Linked DNA regions of Homo sapiens: region 2 is linked to region 1. The links come from fine-mapping of genetic effects on gene expression. A gene starts in region 1. The other region holds a variant in brackets. All regions are shown on one strand. Distances are between the middles of the regions.

Region 1 (2,500 bases):
CAGCCTGGGCGACAGAGCGAGACTCCGTCTCAAAAAAAAAAATACAAAAATTAGTCAGGTGTGGTGGCACATGCCTGTAATCCCAGCTACTCAGGAGGCTGAGGCAGGAGAATCGCTTGAACCTGGGAGGTGGAGGTTGCAGTCAGCTGAGATCATGCCACTGCACTCCAGCCTAGGCGACAGAGCGAGACTCTGTCTCAAAAATAATAATAATTTTATATATACATATATACATATACATACATATATACACATATATACGTATACATACATATATACACATATATACGTATACATACATATATACATACATATATATAGTGATGTTTGGTCTTCACTCCTTAGATTCTATTTAATTAGTCTGGAATCAAGGCTTTTTTTTTTTTTTTTTTGAGACAGAGTCCCACTCTGTCGCCCAGGCTGGAGTTCAGTGGCGTGATCTCGGCTCACTGCAACCTCTGCCTCCCAGGTTCAAGCGATTCTCCTGCCTCAGGCTCCTGAGTAGCTGGGATTACAGGCTTGTGCCACTACGCCTGGCTAAATTTTGTATTTTTAGTAGATACAAGGTTTCACCATGTTGGTCAGCCTGGTCTCGAACTCCTGACCTCGTGATCCGCCCGCCTCGGCCTCCCAAAGTGCTGGGATTACGGGCGTGAGCCACCGCACCCGGCTAATCACGGCATTTTTATAAGCCTTGTGATTTCTGTGATTCTAATGTTTAGATTCTAATGCTTAGCCAGGGTTGAGAACCACCGATTTAATCCAATCCCTTCTCCTAGTTTTACTAAAGAGAAAACTATAACCTAGAATGGTGAGCAACTTGCCCAAAGTCACCCAACATGTTAGTGCAAGGTGCACCGAGAGAGATTGTACCAGTAGCAAGAATATGCTCATGATGTTTATAATTGTTCTCGCTGGAGTTAATCCCGGAAGCATTTCTTTTTAGTTCACAGAGGCCTTATATAAATTACTTTTTACTTTGGCACAGCACTTACGCTTCTGCTAACACTGAAATGGGTTCGCATTCCTGACCACAAAAGGACAGAGATGAAATTCTACATTCACACAGCCCGCCAAGTTAGCCAAGCTCCCTAGGAGGCTGTCTGAAGTGCCTAAAATGCTTCTCTACAATGATCACCCAGAGCTGAGAGACTTCAGTGGGGTAGTGAGAAGAAAGAGGGTTGGGAGAGACAGGAAAGCATCCTCTCCTTGAGGGAAGGAACTGGGAATCAACTGAGAACCAGCTAGCACTGCCAGGAGGTGAGGAGAGGGAAGGAGAATAATTTAAATGAGGCCAGGGAGCTTCTGCTCCCTCAATTAAACGGTGATAGACGGCCTGACACCACCAGCCCTCGAAGCCTGAGATCCACAGGAAATGTTAAAAACTGGCTTGGCAATATAAGTATTAGAAAATACTTCTTCCAACACTCACCAAAAACTAAGCTCCCAATAAAGAACACTTCACCTGCCCTCCGCAACCCTCTACCTCTCTTCCCCGCCAAGATCTTCACCCAAGGTCTCAAGAGGGCGGTTCCCAACCTCACGTGACACAGCGGTCACGTGACATGGCCCCGGGGAGCCGAGGTGAGCGTTCCAGCTTCCGGAGCCGGAGGGGGCCCGGCGTACCCAGCCCCCAGCCCGACGTGACCATGCTGTCCCGCCTCCTAAAAGAACACCAGGCCAAGCAGAATGAACGCAAGGAGCTGCAGGGTGAGCCAAATATCCTGTCGGCCGTTTTCTCTTCGGCCGCGGCCTAGCTTCAGCCCGGAGCCTGGATCTCGAGTAACTAACCATATCCAGGGAAAGACGCCAGCTAGCGGGCAACGGGCATGGGGGAGAGGGAATTTCAGAGAGGCTTTTTTTGAAACTCCTTTCCCTTGCCAACTGGCTCCGGTCCCTTGGGCAATACTCCGGTCCCCTCGGCAACGCCCCCAATCCCCGACCTGCCGCACCTTAGCCCCGCCCCTGCCCCGGAGCGCCCTGCCTATTGGCCCTGGGAGCCTCTCGTCCTGGCGGCGGGAAGGAGCGACTCTGGAGGGAGGAGGGTGTGGGGAACCCCCCAGAGATGGGCTTCTTGGAGGCCTGAAACCACCGGAACGGAGGTGGGGCACTTGTTTCCTGAGTCCGGGCTGGAAATCTCGGAGTTACCGATTCTGCGGCCGAGTAGTGGAGAAAGAGTGCCTGGGAGTCAGGAGTCCTGGGCGCTGCCGCTGACTTCCTGGCGTCCCTGAGTGAGTCCATTTCCCTCCCAGGGTACCAGTTTCCTCATCTCTAAAATGAAAGAGGTTGCGCTATGTTTTGCAAGGTCCTTTTCAGCTCCGGCATTCAGAGATTAGTTAAGAAATTTCGGCAACTAGCAGAATAGTAATGGATGGGTAGGGAACCTTTAACACTACCCCTCAAAAAACCAAGTCTCCCCTCCAATTCCTTTTCCCCCTCTCCCCAGAAAAGAGGAGGCGAGAGGCTATCACTGCAGCGACCTGCCTGACAGAAGCTTTGG
Region 2 (3,024 bases), 100 kb after region 1:
GCGTTACTTCCTGGAGACTTCAGGTGTGGTAGCCGGCGCCGCGCCCATAGCCGGACGGGGATCTGAGCTGGCAGGTAGGAGCTGCAAAGACTGTAAGGGTTGCTGAGGAAAAATGGTGGGAGGCGAAAGGGGCGCCGAGGGAGTGGTGACCTAAATACTGAGAGGGGAGCGCTGAAGGGAGCCCTGAAAAAACCGATGAACATGAGGAGGAAGCTGGGAGGGGCATGGGGCGGGCTTAAGGAACTGGCGGTGGGGCTGGGGCGGGCAAGAGCCGCTTCCTAACCAGACATCATCAGCTTTAGAGCTACCACAATTTTAAAGATCCGAGTTCAGATAATCACTGCTGCCCCTGGAGTCAGAGCCAAGGCTCCACCTTTCGAGGTATTGAGCTCAGGTCCCTTCCTAACCCAGTCCAGAAGCCGTGGGCAAGTTGTTGTCGTGCCCCACGCTTGAGAGAAGTAATGGGGATGCAGACTGTTTACATGCCACGGAGGTGAGAGAGAGGGTGGACAAGCCCCAGAGAACAAAGTGGGGACCAGAGTGAGCTTTACTCTGTCATCCCTTCTTAGTGGTTCTTTGATGATTCCATGACTTTCGCCTGGAATTCTGGGTGTACGTGACCTCTTCATGGTTATTAACTTCTTCAGCAAAGTCAGATACTCCTATTTCCCTTGCTCCCTGAAGTGAGTGCCCCAAGCCTACACATACACCTTCATGTTACAGTTGACGTGTAAAGATCAGAGCAATAATGACTATGTCTCTGAAATGTAGTGAGGACTCTTCTTGTCTTTTAAAGTTTTCCCCAAGTCTTCAGTTTTTATTTTCTGCGTGATGGGTAAGTTCTTCATTCCCAATAGAGTTCAGGGGATTGGGGCTATCTGAGAGACAACTGGGAGATAGCTCAAGAGGGGTTGAGAAAAAACTGAGCTGGACTCCTGCCTGATCCCCCATTACGGCTAGGATGAATGTGGGGGTGGCACACAGCGAAGTAAACCCCAACACCCGAGTGATGAATAGCCGAGGCATCTGGCTGGCCTACATCATCTTGGTAGGATTGCTGCATATGGTTCTACTCAGCATCCCCTTCTTCAGCATTCCTGTTGTCTGGACCCTGACCAACGTCATCCATAACCTGGTGAGCACTAAACCACGCCCTTGTACCCACCCCAGGGTTTCCCAACCAAAAGCAAAATAAAATCACCAATTGTTTGGGGATTTATGTGTTCCTTTTGGGATCTTAACATAATTCTTTGACTGAAAAACTACTTTCTGCCCCTCACACTGCCACCTTCCCTGTTCCCAGGCTACGTATGTCTTCCTTCATACGGTGAAAGGGACACCCTTTGAGACTCCTGACCAAGGAAAGGCTCGGCTACTGACACACTGGGAGCAAATGGACTATGGGCTCCAGTTTACCTCTTCCCGCAAGTTCCTCAGCATCTCTCCTATTGTGCTGTGAGTCTATGGGGGAAAT[G/T]AGATATGCTGGGTTAGAAAGAGCTCCAAGAGCCAGGTAGAAAGGCCCATAGGGAAGCTGTTAAAAAGCAGACTTCTCATCTAAAACCCTTTGAAGATATTATGGTATACTAGTTCTAAGCCTACAGAGAGCAGTAAAATGTAGATTACAGTCAATACTGTAATCAAGCATTCCTTGCTGCCTCCTTGGTAGTAAGGAAATGAAGGGACTGAGAAAAGATAAGTGCCAAATAAAACCAAATGATTTTACACTGCCAAAAGAAGTAAATAAAGGCAGAACTGATATTAATCTTCAAAAACACTGTAGGGAGTGGAAGCAAAGAGGACTGTAACAGTCATACAGACTGAAATAGCTTGAGCCGTCATTTGCCATGTCATTAACAATTAACAGATACTGACTTACAGTCTCCAGTTAAGGGTGCTATCTCCTGAACCCCAAAGTAAATGCTGTTGATATAGCTGGAATAGTTTTAGATAATCTAGAACTATATACAGTAAAACTGGTCATTTAAAATAGAAGAGAAAGAGCAGGGCACTGTGGTGCATGCCTGGAGTCCCAGCTACTTGGGAGGCTATGGCAGAAGGATTGTTTGAGCCCAGGAGTTTGAGGTTGTACTGCACGTATCACACTTATGAATAGCCACTGCACTCCAACCTGGGAAACATGGTGAGAACTGTCTCTTAAAAAAAAAAAAGAATATGGATAGAGAAGGTCAACCTCACTCACCCTATTTTTTTCTCTCCCCAGCTATCTCCTGGCCAGCTTCTATACCAAGTATGATGCTGCGCACTTCCTCATCAACACAGCCTCATTGCTAAGTGTACTGCTGCCGAAGTTGCCCCAGTTCCATGGGGTTCGTGTCTTTGGCATCAACAAATACTGAGGGATGGGTTTTGGGACAGCTCCATGGGCATGGGGAAGGCACTGAAACAGAGGACTATAAAACATCCTTCTCTTATTCTCCATACTGTCTTCTACACCTTTAAAGCCTGAGAACTATACAACCTTTCCCAGACTCCCAAGAAGAGAAGAGATTGGCAAATGGGGCTCCTGGGCCCAGTCCTGCTAGTGGCAAGTTTCTTTGAATCAGGAAGGCAGGTGAGGTAAGGGCCAAATCACTCTCCTCCATAGCAGGAAGCCATTTGGGCAGCTTCTTTGGTGATTACATCTTTCCATATCTTTTACACTTACCACCTTCCAGCTCTGTTTTGCTGTGTATTTTTCTTACAATAATTTTTTTCAGCTATAGCTGCAGTTTAATCAGGATGGGTAGAGAGCTGTCCTCATAAGGCTGGGGGTGGGAAGATGGAATACTGACCTAATGTATAAAACTTAAAACAATTCTCCAATCCCCTCTCCTTTGGTCCAGTAGGAGGTGCCCTTCACTCTAAGCTTAACACTTAGTAGGGAAGAGATTCTCAAATGAGAAAAAGGGCTCCGGCTATATGGGCAACAAAGAGGGAAGATACAGGTTGCCAGTTATACATTTATAGAAAGATAATCCCCTGGCTTTAAATAGTCATGTACATACAAATATGAACAAACTTAAA

Evidence for each region. PIP is the estimated chance that this variant, and not a neighbour inherited with it, causes the effect.
Region 2: its variant is fine-mapped to the expression of BLOC1S1 in substantia nigra (GTEx, PIP 0.90).

The regions. Positions count from the first base shown.
Region 1 is chr12:55,714,487-55,716,986 of GRCh38, forward strand. BLOC1S1 (biogenesis of lysosomal organelles complex 1 subunit 1) reads left to right here and starts at 1,560. Exons shown (of 4, transcript NM_001487.4): 1 at 1,560-1,710; 2 at 2,447-2,500. The coding sequence starts at 1,566. It overlaps BLOC1S1-RDH5 (BLOC1S1-RDH5 readthrough), which reads left to right and starts at 1,548. Exons shown (of 6, transcript NR_037658.1): 1 at 1,548-1,710; 2 at 2,447-2,500. It also overlaps a transcript of ITGA7 not described here. RefSeq lists enhancers at 1,605-1,744, 2,025-2,264.
Region 2 is chr12:55,818,039-55,821,062 of GRCh38, forward strand. It overlaps ORMDL2 (ORMDL sphingolipid biosynthesis regulator 2), which reads left to right and starts at 3. Exons shown (of 4, transcript NM_014182.5): 1 at 3-74; 2 at 961-1,135; 3 at 1,304-1,455; 4 at 2,222-3,024. The coding sequence starts at 962. The coding sequence ends at 2,357. It overlaps DNAJC14 (DnaJ heat shock protein family (Hsp40) member C14), which reads right to left. Exons shown (of 7, transcript NM_032364.6): 7 at 2,947-3,024. The variant G/T (reference allele first, on the strand shown) is at 1,475.